Homo sapiens: one gene and its partner. The protein of the gene in region 1 interacts with the protein of each later gene in a pairwise test. Each region holds a gene or a part of one and is shown in the gene's direction. Other genes may lie near its edges.

Region 1 (6,978 bases):
GAATTAACTCAAGGTCTGAGAGGAATAGACAGGCACCTGAAAATCCTGCCATATTTGAATACTTCAGAATTATGCATTCTATCTATGTAGCCTGAGAGTATTTAATTATTAAAAGTAGAAAGCAAAGGTTTTTAATACCTTTACAATGTAAAAGCACAAATGAGGGAAACTGGGAGGTGGAAGAGGGAGTGGAGGTAATGAGAAGGGAGTGATCTTAGTTTTCAAAGTGGCAAGTCAGGAAAGACTGTCCTTGGTTGATGGAACATAAAAGAAAGAATGCTGGGCTATTTGGGATTCCATTTAAATAGTGCCTTCTTCCTTAAGTTCTGAACCAAATGAAAAGAAAAAAGAGCCATTAGAAAGAGAACAAAATACCACCTTTATTATTGATAAAAACCAGTTTGATGATTGTACCTTGTTTTGCTAACTCCCATTCAGTTCAGCCCTGGGAAGAGTCATCCAAGAGAAAGTTTGAGTCAGCAGAGAGAAACACTTGTTCAGGCTGGTGCCTTTCATTGGTTTGGGTGGAGAGGGAAGGAGAAACTAAAGCCCAAGTTCAACACATTTGGGAGACTCCCAAATGAGATGTTAGAACAATGGTTATCACCCACCAACCAGGTAACTCATTCCACCTCCATGGGGAGGAATAACTGACAGGACAAGAGGCCAGGAATGTTAAAGAACAATCCTCTGCGTTGAAGAAAACATCCAGAGTGGAAAAGAAACATGTTTCTAACAGTGTAAATATATTTAAGTTAAAAAATCGTGATTTCACTATATTGAGAGAAGGGGGCGGGTGGTCTGAGGGAACCAAATTTTCATCTATCATAGTAGGAGTTACATGGATGTTGCCTATAATTCATAAATCAGGAAATAGTGAGATAAACATTATTTGGAGATACATAAGTAACCCTTGGAAGAAATAAAAACAGTTGTACACTGATGAGTTTCCTCTGGGGAATGGGACTGGGGATGGGAAAGGAAAGGGTGGGAAGGAAACTCTTCATTCTAAGCTTTTCTGTTCTACTGGATTTTTCAAACCATATGCCTGTTACTTTAATATTATATCAAATTAAAAGAATCATGCTTTTTCAACTGGGAAATACATACTCGGCAGTGGCTAGGTGGTGCTAGAAGTCACTGGATGCATTTTAGAACATCAGTTTTTCTTGAATATTTGTGAGAGGGAGTTAAGTAATATAAATAATATAACTGAAAACATTTTTGAATAAAAACAAACTCTGATGCATTATGTAGTCAAAACAAGCTTCTCTTGAATTTTTATATGAAATATGAGACTGCAAAGAAACTCAGCTTTGCTACAGGTTACTTGCAGCTAAATGTCTATCTTTCCTCTTCCCATGAACCAACCCTCTTCTGCCATTGAAACATTTCCATTGAGACATTGGAAATGCCTGAGAATGAGCAACATTTTAAAACAGTTTAGCACTTCCTAGATGATTACATAATTTCAGCAGTTATTTCTGATTTCCTTACTGATCTTATTTTCTTATTGATCTTATTTTCTTTCCTTTGATTTCTTGCTCTGAGCCCCTATGCTAATATGTTTTTCCTTCTGAACTCAGAGACACCCATTTATCAGTAATATGCATACATTTTCTTTAGTGTTAGTAATAGAAATTGCTTCCCCAAAAAATCGTCGAAGAAAAAGTGAGCTACAAATGACTTAGAATTTAGTCTAAAGTGTATTTGATTTAAGATACCCAGCGAGTATATCAAAACCAATATTGCTTCAACAACATTTGTTGAATACCTGCTAAGTGCCCAGGTCCTGAGTTTAGCACTGAGAATACAGAGCTGTTTAAGGACCTCATTGTCTCATGGGCCTCCATGTTAATGTAATTAATTAGGCTAGATGTTAATTAATAGTAATTAGCAGGGCTATTTACAGTGGCACCCACACCCCATGGTGTTTTCTGCTGTTTAGAGCAAAACTTGGAGTGGTCCTACTAAATAACCTGAAAGAAAAATGAGTGCTCTTACTTTATCCTTAAGGAAAGGTGATCTCAAGAGAGGAATAGGTTTGTCCAAAGGTCACCAGCTTAGGAATGGTAAAGCCAGAATTAAAATTCTATTCCCCTGATCCTTAAGCCACTACCCTTCCTACTTTGTCATGTTATTGAGCTTTCTAGGAGAAAAATTTGAGCCATATTACTTTTGTCAACCTTGCTAAAATATTTCATTTCTCTTTTCATATTTTATCATTAGTGAAGATTTTATACTATCCAACTTAAGATTTTGTATTAGTGCCTTCATAAATCTTTACTGTGGTCTAATTATAGTAAATAAAGCTGCATGTGTGTGTATGTGTGTATTATTAAGCTAGATTCTAAAAATGAATTAAATGAGTCTAATGATAGTAAATGAAGCTGCATGTGTGTGTTAGATTCTAAAAATGAATTAAATGAGTGCTTTATTATCCAGGCTTTATCACTCAAATATAAAATATAACAGCAGCAATATGATAATAGTAGTTAACATTATTTATATGCTAACTCTGTGCTAGTCCTGTTTGAGCACTTGGTATTCATTGTCTCATTTCATCCTAACAACAACCTGATAAGATGATGCTGTTATCCTTACTATAAGGATTAGGAAAATAGGGATTTGAAGGGGTTAAGTCACTTGCTAAAGGTCACATAGCAGATAGGTGTCAAAGTAGGCCTTAAAACCTAGGATTGTGATACTAGAGCCAGTGCTTTTAATCAGGTGTCAGAAGTGGATGAAATCAAGCACTATGGGAAATTATGATATTTGACTTTATCTTTCTAGAGCATCTTTATTTACTTTCAGTGGCAAGTGTGCTAGTTGTTTCATAGCTAAACAATCACATAGTATGAATGAGAATATAATCAGTTGTTGTTTCATAGCTAAACAATCACATAGTATGAATGAGAATATAATTAGTATACATAAGAATTATGTTTTTAAATTAGTCCCATCCTGTTTCTAGCATGTGAGCCCTAGTTCAAATCCCAGCTGTTTCAAAGCTACTTGTTAACCAATTGATAGCACCTTTTAATTTCCCCACCATAATTTTTATGACATAATTTATCATTAGTCTTCCTTGTGTTATAGATATTCGAATTTTTTTATTAGCTTCTCTGCTAGATTAAGTTATTTACACAGAAGCCATGACATATTTATCTTTATATGGCCCATAGTATCTCATAGAGTGAGATAATGCAAGTGGAAACTCTTTCAAAACTCTTAAGCAATTAGAGACAGTGCATAATCAATGTTTACCAAGTGTATATTTTCTAAGATGCCTTATTGAGCTATAAGTATATTTTATGTTTTGAATAAATTTTTACTGCAATTTGTGTAAAAATTGTTCTTTTTGAACAATTTTACTGACTAAATTAACTGCCCTCTGTGCCCTTTTAGTGTGTAGATGGGGTTTTAGGTGGTGAAGATTATAATCACAACAACATCAACCAGTGGACTGCAAGCATAGTGGAACAATCCTTAACACACCTGGTTAAGTTGGGAAAAGCCTATAAATATATTGGTAAGTATCAGTATCCTTCCTCACTAGTTCACTTGCTTTTGTCATTGTGATTTTCTCTGAATTTTGAGAAGGTATATGTACAATAGACATTTAAGTTGGATACTAAAAGGGTATAAAGGACTTCTGATTTACTCATTCAAAGATAATCTATAATAATACTTAAAAGATGAAGATCTTTCACTACTCAAAGGCAGTTTGAGCTACTTTTCTTTGGTAGCATCACCCTTTGCATTTCCATCAGTTCTTTCTTTCCACTGAGACCCCCCCTTAGCTCAACTGTGTTTCTTTCGGTAGTCCCATGCCTCTTTACCTGTAATTCCACACAGCAACTGTTTATAAAGTGGAGTATTTCCTGCATTTCTGTGTCTGAATTCTGCCCATGGTACAAAGCACAGAATTTGACTGATATTTTTCCTGCAATACAATCACCAATGGTAATGACAATGGTCAGAAAACCAACTGAATCCAGTGGGGTCAAAATCATGATGGTAGATAAAGATGAGAGTCTTTTATTTTTTTTTCAATCTATTTGCTGAACGCTTTGTTTTCTGTTTTTTGTTTGTTTGTTTGTTTTTTGTCTTGTTTTCGGCTTGTAGAGCTCTGAACTCACACACTTTGACCTTGGTTCTCTTTTCCTTTGTCTGTAAGTGCCCTCATTCTGTGACTTTATTTGCAGTGACCTGTGCAGTGGTCCAGAAGAGCGCATATGGCTTTCACACAGCCAGCTCCTGTTTTTGGGATACCACATCTGATGGTAAGAGATCTTAAGCTGATTTACACAAAATCCAACTTTTAGCAAAGTCAAACTGCACTTTTTAACCAAGTACTTATTTAATTCTGATTAAATTCTGAAAAGACTATCAACAGTATTGCTTTGTACCTAGTAACAAGTATACCTTCAGACCGATATGAAATGTGAAAACTTAACAGGTTGAAGGAAATAAGATATTAAAACATGTGAAAAATGTATGTGTATATATATATATATATATGTGTGTGTGTGTGTGTGTGTGTGTGTGTGTGTGTGTGTATATGTGTGTGTGTGTGTGTGTGTGTGTATATATATATATATATTCTCTGATAATTTTTATGTTTTGCTGGTATTTCAAAATCCTTTTTTTGTGTTTCAGGAACCTGTACCGTAAGATGGGAGAACCGGACCATGAACTGTATTGTCAACGTTTTTGCCATTGCTATTGTTCTTTAACTGACTAAAAATGTTGGGCTAAAGCCATTAACTTAAGAATTTGTCAGTGTATCCTTTCCAAAAAGAGTAATAGTTGTTTACTAGTGTGCTAGATGAAAAGCGTGCAATATGCTTTAAAGCTATCAACAAAAACTGAATATTATAAGCAAGCAATATCATAGTAATTGGCAGATTAGCTCATATTCTATACAGCATCGTTTAAATAGGAAAAATTTAATGCTAGCAAAAAATAAATTTAGAAATATGGCATGACATGAAAATACAATCTTATATTTACACCAGCTTTTCACTAATATTTTGTACCTAAGGTGATGGGGAACTCCATTCAGATAATAAAATTCTCTTTCAGCTAGAGAAGTTAACAGGAATAAATATATGAACAAAAAAGCTGCAAGGATAAATGTGGAGAAAATGATGAGAATTAGCTAACATTTTTAAGTTTTTTTAAACTTTCTTCCCCTCAGTTGTACTTAATATTTAGTGGAAAGTAATAATTTTTTTAATTTTCTATCAACTAATAGTATAGTAACAACTATGATTAACTTGTTTACTTTTTCTGAGGATTAGTAAATCAATTTTTTTTAATTTCAAATTTTTGGATTTACACTTGAGGGTAAATTAAATCTGGTAAACTGAATTTCCTAGTTAAATAAAATTAGTTGCAGTATATGATGAACAGTGTATGACTCAAACAGCTGCCTTACAATTCACTCATTCCATGTGGAACAAACATTTATCAGATGCCTATTATGGGCATATGTCTCTGCTAAGCACCATAGTTGTCAATGTGCTGTGCAAATGCTAAGTTCCTTTTAGCAATTGTTCAGTTGGAAGACGTATTAATATTTGGGGAAGGAAAAGAAAGTAGTTGTTTTACAAGGGAGGAAAAAAGTGAATCTGGTTACACATATGGAAGTAAGCAAAATGAAAAGCACTTATTGCTTTCTGACAGAATTATAGATGTAATTTTAAGAGTTGCTCCTAGCAAGTTAAAAGTGCATATAAAATATGCAACTCTTAGTTAAAGGCCTTATTATCAGTCTTACCTATACAAGTAGTAAATTTTGTCATTGCTTTAGTTACAACCATCTGTAAATAACTTAAAAGACTTATTATGTGGGGTTCAAATTGAGTGGAATAAAGTATAGATTAAAAGTATACAATCCTTAGCACGTTATCTCAGGGCTTATGAAATGTAATTAAATTTATTAAGAAAATAGATGAAAAATTAGGGTACACAGCTGGCCACCAAATGCGAAGTCAATCTGCTACTTAACCCTGAAAACAAAATCAGTTTTGCATATTACCACTAACACTAATACATATAGAGAGCGGAACCATAACTCATTGAATTTTGGAGAGGAATAAGCTTAGCGTTAATATTGACAATATTAAGGCAATATTCTTGTAGGAATACTATGTGCATGTTTGATATTTTGCCAAATAACAATAATTAATAATTGTTCAATGTTTAAGAATAATATTAACAAAATAAAGGAGTTTAATGCAGTGATCTTTGTTTTTGGCACATCAAAAATTCTCAGTCATTATTCATGTTTCTTTATGCTGCTGGCTTTTGTGCCCTGGAAGATCATAATAGTGACCAAAATATACATGCAGACTTGTTTTTTATTATTGTTGTTTAAGCATAATTTAAGAAAAAAAATTTTTACCTGGTGAACTTGCTATCTGCTCTGTTTCTAGTTAAAATATAATAAATATTATCTTCCTGTGCTGTACTTTTGCTTCTGGATAATCATTTAATAGTTAGAGAAATGACATTCTGCTTGCTCTTAGAAATTCTAAATAGAAGAAATGCTGGGGGTGGTGGCTCACACCTGTGTAATCCCAGCACTTTGGGAGGCAGGTGGATCATTTGAGGTCAGGAGTTTGAGACAAGCTTGGCCAACACGGTGAGACCGCATCTCTCTTAAAAATACAAAAATTAGCCAGGCGTGGTGGCACACATCTCTAATCCCAGCTACTCAGGAGGCTGAGGCAGGAGAATTGCTTGAACCCGGGAGGCGGAGATCGCAGTGAGCCGAGATCGTGCCACTGCACTCCAACCTGGGCAACAAAACAAGATGCCGTCTCAAAAAAAAAAAAAAAGAAAAAAGAAAGCAATTCTAAATAGGATAAATGAATATGGGACCACATAGATATATTATGCATATTATGCAGAATAAATACCATTAAAATAGCAGCCCAAATCCAGTATTTACCATTACAACATAATTAA
Region 2 (8,154 bases), on another chromosome or scaffold:
TCCTTTTTTTTTTTTTTTTTGAGACAGTCGTGCTCTGTCACCCAGGCTGGAGTGCAGTGGTATGATCTCGGCTCACTGGAACCTCCACCTCCCAGGTTCAAGCAATTCCCTGCCTCAGCCTCCCAAGTAGCTGGGATTACAGGCACCTGCCACCATGCCCAGCTAACTTTGTATTTTTAGTAGAGATGGGGTTTCACCATCTTGGCCAGGCTGGTGTTAAACTCCTGACCTCATGATCCACCCGCCTCAGCCTCCCAAACTGTTGGGATTACAGGCGTGAGCCACTGCACCCGGCCAAGACTCTGCCTCTTAATGTGATCACCTTAGGGGTTAGAATTTCAACCTAAAAATTTTGTGAGGACACAGAAATTCGGACTGAAGCCACACATTAGAGGAACAGAAAGAAAAAGCTATTGGGCGAACAAAGAAGGGAGTACTAGATCTTGTAAGTGAAGACAAGGGCCAAATCATGTAAGGCCTTACAAAGTTTGGATTTTATTTTTAATTGCAGTGGGAAGCCATTGGTGTATTTTTGAGCCAGGATCATCTTATTATAATTTTCTTTTTCATTTTTTTTTCCCTCTCCCTTCTCCCCTCCCACAGGATCTCATTATTTTGAAGTGATTGATATGATATCAGTGTGGAGAATAGGTTGTAGGGAGCAACAGTGGAAGCGGAAAGATAGCAGGGAATGGTTGCAGTATTTTAGGTGGGAGATGATGGTGACTTGGACCAGGGAGGTGGTAACAAAAATATAGAGAAGTGGATGGATTTAGGATATATATTTGAACCAACAACATTTGCTAATAAATTAGAAGGGATTTATTGCAGTGAGCCGAGATCGTGTCACTGCACTCCAGCCTGGGCAACAGAGTGAGACTCCATGTCAAAAAAAAAAAAAAAAAGGCACAGCCATGATGAGTTGCCTGTATATAATAGGCCCCAGAGAGCTCCCTTGCCCCTTCTAACATATGAGGACAGAGTCTGAAGGTACCATCTATGAACCAAAAAACCTCAGACATTGATTCTGCTGGCAACTTGGATCTTAGAATTCCCAGTCTCCAGAACTGTAAGAATTAAATTTCTGTTGCTTATATGTTATTTCATTATAGCAGCCTGAATGGACTAAGATATTTGCCAGTAACATTTGACTTCAGGTCCTCTGCTCTTGCTTTTCCTCTCTCAGGAACACTTTCTACCCAGCCTTTCACATGGCTATCTTCTCACCCTCAGCTCTTTGGCTGAAATGTCAGAGGGTCTTCCCTGACTTCTTACCTAAAGTAGCCTCTCTCCTAGTCACTCTCTCAAATAAGTGATAAGCTATTTGCACTTATCACTACTTGAAATTATATCATTTGCTGACTTGTTTACTATCTCCCCATACTAGAATATAAAATTCAAGAGCTCTAGGCTTTTGTCTTGTCTCTGTTTTATCCCTAATGCCTTAAAAGTGCCCAGCACAAAGGTGAAACGCAATAAAACATTTTCAAAATAAGAAAATTTAATGATTCGAACAAAGCAGTTTCAATGGTGGGTGAAAACAAGTCTGAAGGGGACTAATGAATGAATAGTAAAGAAAAAGAAATGGAAAATGTAAACTTCTTTTAGGAAGCATGATTGTGAGAGGAAGAGAGGTACAACAAAGGTGGAAGACAACCAAGGTTGTGGAAACGTCATTATGGGAAGAGAAAAACTTGTTCCTTAATTCTCTTTACATAAGGATCCTCTTTCAGAATTAAAAGTCCTGCATCCTCTCCTCAGAAAAATGCAAATACACCTTTACAAACAATTTCAGGGGATTTAAGACTCTATAAGGTCCTTGGACTCCAGGTGAAGAAGCCCTACAGTACAGAAACAATGAAGATTCCTAAGGCATGAGTTAATGTTAATTGATGGAGAAAGACAGCTGAGGTAATAAGAGGAAACCCAGATAAAGATGTATTGCCCCGACACAAGAAAGACAAAAGCAAGGACAGGTGAAGATTTAGACACTTGTAATCCCAATAATCCCAACACTTTGGGAGGCCAAGGCCAGAGGATCACTTGAGCCCAGGAATTTGAGACCAGCCTGGACAACATAGTGAGTTCCTGTATCTACAAAAATTAAAAAATAAATTAGCCAGGCATAGTGGCATCCACCTGTGGTCCCAGCTACTTGGGAGGCTGAGATAGGAGAATCACTTGAGCCCGGGAGGTCAAGGCTGCAATGAGTCATGATCGCACCACTGCACTCCAGCCTGAGCGACAGTGAGATCATGTCTCAAAAAAAAAAGGTAAGTGTCATGGAAATCTGAGGAAGTTTCTGTCTGGTTGAATTTTAATTTTTCAGTGAAACAGGAGCTAAGATTATATAATAAAAAGTATCATCGGTGTTGAGCAAAATATGAAGCACATAATATGTATTCAACAAATTATTGATTTTTTGATAGAATGGAAAATACTGGAGTACTTCAATGGAATTCTGAAATCTGGTTCCACAAAAGCTTACTACAGTTGAGGTGGGTTTTTCTTTTTAAAAATATTGTCTCCAAAAGTGTAGACTTATAGACATTGAAGTAGAAAGGAACTGCCTCACTAACAGAAGGATGTGGAAAACCATACAAGATTTATGAATAATTCTGAGAGAGTATTTTATATAATAAAAATAAGTGGATAAATATTTTGGGAAACAATCAGCAAACTAAATACTGCGAGCAACAATAAAGATTAATCTTAAAAAAAATGTTGAGTAAAGAAGCAAGATGTAAATGAATACTTAGTACAATTCCATTCGAAGTTCAAAAACAAGCCAAACTGTAATGTGCATGTTCACATACAATGATGTGAAACATTAAGGAAAATCAAGGAAGTGGCTATCTTAGAAGTCAGGAGAGTGGCTATCTCTGGGGAGGGAAAGAAATATGTAATCTGAAAAGGTGATAAATAGTAATACCTCTAACTGCCTCTGTGTATGGAGGACTTCAAAACCAAATCGTCCTAAACAAACTAGTCTAAGCAACTCAAAAAGAAGACAGAAAAGATCTCCCAGAGAATCTCTACACCTGATTATATTCTGGGCTACAGGCAGTGATTTTTCTTCAGAAGGTAAACAGTACGCGAGATATTGTGGAAGCTGCCATTAAATAATGCCAAAGTTTAGGATTTAAAATTAATATTTAATTAATGTACCGTCCTAGTTATTTCCCACTAATTAAGACTGAAGAGTTTGGCTCATTAATCAATTAAAATACAAACAAGAATCTGTCTTATCCTGGAAGCAGATTCGAATGCGACATCCTACTTCTATAACTAACCTGTTTTTTTCTACTTACAAACCTATTGTTATTCTACTTATGTCCTTACACGTAAACAAAGTATACTTGAAATGCTGAACACCAGTACAGAAAATTTTAAACAAGGAAATCTCCTAGGATATAAGGTCCTGGAATGGAAGAAGGAAAACGTTGGGACACTATAATCTATGCAAACTTTCCCGAAGCTGCGAAAAAAAAAAAGTGAAAAAAAACCATATTTCTGTGAGTTTTTAGGTATCAAGTCCATGATCACCTAGTTATCCAATTTAAGTCTCAAATAGTTTTTCAACAAAAGCCAGCTTTCCCTGCCTTTACTGTGTATAATTTTTACTAAAATTATCTGAGATTTTCATGCAAATGCCTATGTAATCTCAGCCTTTCACCACCCCAAGTCTAGAAAGAGGCTCAGAAATGAGCGATCGGGAGTCAGGCTGAACTCCCAAATCTGTGACTTCCAAATTCCTCGGCTCCACCAGAGCTTCCAGAGCGTTTCTAAACTGAACAGTCTCCCCAACAACCAAGCGGAGAGCTGCGGGAGGACGCGAAGCAGTGACCATAGGAACTGGGCTCAAACCTAACCTCCCAAGAAACAGGGGCAACTCGTGCTGCCGAGCTTCCGGCCGGCAGCTGTGCCCGCCGCTGCCCCTCACAGCCGCTCCCGCTGCTAGCGCCCAACTCCGCCCGCCACGGCCCCGCACCCGCCACTCCTGCCCGCTTGCAGCCGCCTTCTCAGAGACCTTCCAGTCCAGTAGCAGCACTCTCCCCACCCCGCGCACCTCCGCAGCTTCTACCTGGAGCTCCGGGTCCCTCCCCGGGCTCCTCGGCCCGCCGTCCTGCCCAGAGCTCATCCCCGCGACTGTCAGCTCTCGGCCTCAGCGGGGGATACAAGAACCGCCCACTCTCCATCCTCCGCCCCTTTCTCCTCCCTTCCCACCCCCAAATCGTCCTGGCCCCGCCCCGGCGGATCGGAGGAAGGACGGAGCCCGCGGGAAGGAGGAGGGGGCGGTTAGCGCCAGCCAGTGCCGCCGTGGCCCCGCCCTCACGCTCTGTACCGGAGTGGGGCTCGTCTTCCACCTCCCCGGCGCCCCAGCTTTGCTTCCGTCCCGCTCGCCCCCAGGCCCGGTGCGCACGCGTACCTGGCTCGACCTTCCTTCTCGCGGGGTCTACAAGCCGTGCGCGCGCTCCTACGCACGGAGCGACGCGTACGTCTACCTGCCTGCCTTACAGGGCACCTAGGAGGGACCCCTTCCTGGCCCATCCGCGCCGCGCAGGCGCACGCCCACGCAGCGCCTAGACGCCCGAGCCGAGCGTCCCGTCTCCTAGTAACCAGCCGCTAGCCCCCTTTTCCACGACTCATTTCTTAATCTCTGCCTGAGGCTGCCGCACCTGGATGGAACGCGCATGCGCAAGGCTGTCTCTCGCAGCCCCGCCTTCCCTCAGCTTGAAACACCTGCTGCTTCGCGGCGGTGGCTTTGTGCCACTTTTCCCAGGGCTTGGGCATCATTCTGGACCCATGTTCGGTGAACCGGTTACTCTCAGAGCTGCTTTCGGGCGCAGCTCCTGCTGCAGCCAGGGCCCGTTTTAAGAGAGGCTTCCAGGTCCAGCCCTCCCGCTGCAGCCTGCAGGGAGCGAGCCGGCCTGTCCCGGTGAGCGTGGGCAGCCTGGAGTCAGGGGAGCCTGGGGACCACGGCCTTGGTCAGCTCTGCACGATCAGGGCTGAATCAGGAAGTGGCAGATCTAGCAACAAAGTCCAGATTCCTGACCGATATTCCTTCTCCACATGCCAGTCCTTTTCCAAATCCCCTCACCTTAAAGTGACAAATGAGCTTTTTAGTGAAAAAGAATGAGCGCTGCATTCTTCTACCAATTTTTTGGAGCCCAGAATGGGGGGGAAAAAAGTCTTCTTAATTTTTCTTAATACCTACCATGTCCCTTCTTAAATAACTCAAGAGCTTCTGGATGATAATGGTGACTTTATCTCCTTTTCCTGCAGATGACATAGACACTAGGTTTTTACAGCAATTCTCTGATGACCTTGATATGGTAGAACGCTGTGTATTTCAAGAGTAAGCTCTCGTTTGAGGAGACTAACAATTCCTGTTTTCGCCAGGTGAGTACTCATTTTTCCCCCCACAAGATATCATTGGCAGGGATAAACAACTTTTGTGTAGAACAAATTTAGTCATAAAAATACATTTAATATAAATGCCATGTTTTTCCAATGTCTTTTCATCGTGTTATTACATGGTCTCATATTTTGTCGCATTTATTTTCAGATATCATATACTTTGTAAGTATAATTAGATACCAAAAAAAATTAAGTGTCCCTGTTATTTTAGATTAAGAGGTTAGAGGACACAAGGAGCACATATCCTCGGAAATGTAATTTTTTAAATGCACAAAATAACAAACTGAGAAGTTATGTTAGAGGGAATAATGTATAATCTCATTTCCTCTTCAGATACTAAGATTATTTTGAATACATTATCTAGCATTATTAAAAACAAATAGGAAAGAATGTTCTAAGTTTAAAACTATCAGCTGGAGTTGAAGACTTCGGGGGTGGGGAGATTATTAATATAGGAAGTAGGAAAGTACTTCCCTTATAGAAAGAATAAGAAAAGTTTAAGCACTTATGTATGCCACCTAGACGGTACTGAAGATTATTTGGAAAGAATATAAGGAAATGATCATTTTAAGGCCAAAAGAGGGTGAAAAGATTTTCCTTTTTTTTCCTATCAAGAACTGTTGACTTTCTCCCCTAACCTGAGAAAGTAAAAATTTCCTTCCCTCTGTGGAAACCCAAGGGGTAGTGAGTGTCCCACCCTGCCCCAACTAAACCTTTTTTTTTTTTTTTTTTTTTTTTTTGAGACAGAGTCTCACTCTGTCGCCCAGGCTGGAGTGCAGTGGCACGATCTCGGCTCACTGCAACCTCCGCCTCCCGGGTTCATGCCATTCTCCTGCCTCAGCCTCCCAAGTAGCTAGGACTACAGGCGCCCACTACTACGCCCAGCTTTTTTTTTGTTTGTTTTTTGTTTTTTGTATTTTTAGTAGAGACAGGGTTTCACTGTGTTAGCCAGGATGGTCTTGATCTCCTGACCTCATGATCCACCCGCCTCAGCCTCCCAAAGTGCTGGGATTACAGGTGTGAGCCACTGCGCCCAGACTTTTTTTTTTTTTCCTTTTTTTTAAGACAGAGTCTCACTCTGTTGCCCTGTACCCAGGCTGGAGTGCGTTGGCATGATCTCAGCTCACTGCACCCTCCACCTTTCAGGTTGAAGCAGTTCTCCTGCCTTAGCCCCTTGAGTAGCTGGGACCACAGGTATGTGCCACCATGCCCAGCTAATTTTTGTATGTTTTTGTAGAGATGCGGTTTCACCATGTTGCCCAGGCTGGTCTTGAACTCCTGGACTCAAGTGATCCACCCACCTCAGCATCCCAAGTGCTGGGATTATATGCATGAGCCACTGTGCCTGGCCCAGGCTAAGCCTTATATAGTACCCTGTGCTTGCTCTCTCGTGACAGACACCTTCTAAGGTCTTGGTTTTCTAGTCCCTTAATTTTTCCATCATTTCAAAAGCTTCACTACAAAAACCTCTGTTATTACTATTTTTTGTTTTGTTTTCACTGTCCTCTTCCTGATCCCCTCAAAAAAAAATCTGGGACTCCAATTCCATATGTGTTAAGCCACTTGATCTTGTTCCACAGCTCACTGATGCTGTGTTCCTTTTTTTTGTTTGTTTTTTTGAGATGGAGTCTCGCTTTGTCTCCCAGGCTGGAGTGCAGTGGCGCGATCTCCGCTCACTGGAAGCTCTGCCTCGCGGCTTCACGCCATTCTCCTGCCTCAGCCTCCCGAGCAGCTGGGACTACAGGCGCCCACCACCACGCCCGGCTAATTTTTTTGTATTTTTAGTAGAGACGGGGTTTCACTGTGTTAGCCAGGATGATCTCGATCTCCTGACCTCATGACCTGCCCGCCTCGGCCTCCCAAAGTGCTGGGATTACAGGCATGAGCCACCGCGCCCGGCCTGTGTTCCGTTTTTTAAATCAGAGAGTTTCCTCCTTATGCCGAGGCCTGAAAGTTCCAGGCAATGTCCATTCATAGGGCTCACTTTATTTCCTGTTTCTCAAGGATCACTCTCCCGAACTGCCTGTTGTCCAATATCTAAAAGCCATTGCTTCATGTGTTTTGTGTTTTGATGCTGAAAGCAGGCGGGGCACGGTGGCTCATGCCTGTAATCCAGCTACTCGGGAGGCTGAGGCAGGAGACTTGCTTGAACCCGGGAGGCAGAGGTTGCGGTAAGCCGAGATCGTGCCATCGCCCTCCAGCCTGGGGGACAAGAACAAAACTCTGTCTCAAAAAAAAAAAAAAAAAAAAAAGATGCTGAAAGCATGAGGATAAGTCTGGTCTCTGTTACTCCATCATGACTAGCAGCAGAAGTCTGCCATTCTTCACAGTTCCAGGCCCCATGTCACTAACTATCCTCAAGGGATGTGGTTTGCAATGCAAAAATTGCTTCAGGCTGGGGGAACTGTAAGTGCAAAGGTCCTGAAGCAGGAGAAGGTTTGGCATAGAATATGCTTGAGGAACAGCAATGGGGTGATAGGTCTGGGGTCGAATAAGGCAAAGAGACAGGAGAGAGTGCTTGCTAGTAGAGTTGTTTGCTACGGCTGTGCAACAATTTACCACACACTTGGTGTCTTTAAGCAACACAAATTTATTATCACACGGTTCTGGAGATTTACAAGTTCAAATTGGGTCTCACTGGGCTAAAATCAAGATGTCAGGCAGGTCTACATTCCTTCTGGAGGCTCTAGGGGAAAATCCCCTTTCTTGCCTTTCCAGCTTCTACTGGCAGCC

Evidence for each region. The genes of interacting proteins can lie anywhere in the genome.
Region 2: the proteins of DYNLT3 (region 1) and C2orf15 interact in binary tests that used the Homo sapiens proteins (3 or more experiments, as listed by UniProt).

The regions. Positions count from the first base shown.
Region 1 is NC_000023.11:37,838,336-37,845,313, reverse strand, and holds the end of DYNLT3 (dynein light chain Tctex-type 3), read left to right. Parts: intron 1-3,408; coding exon 3,409-3,532; intron 3,533-4,208; coding exon 4,209-4,286; intron 4,287-4,662; coding exon 4,663-4,739; 3' UTR 4,740-6,478; downstream 6,479-6,978. UniProt on the Homo sapiens protein: Acts as one of several non-catalytic accessory components of the cytoplasmic dynein 1 complex that are thought to be involved in linking dynein to cargos and to adapter proteins that regulate dynein function.
Region 2 is NC_000002.12:99,136,999-99,145,152, forward strand, and holds the start of C2orf15 (uncharacterized protein C2orf15), read left to right. Parts: upstream 1-4,708; 5' UTR 4,709-4,939; intron 4,940-5,286; 5' UTR 5,287-5,403; intron 5,404-8,154. Other genes in the region: TSGA10 (testis-specific gene 10 protein), read right to left, coding at 4,070-4,141.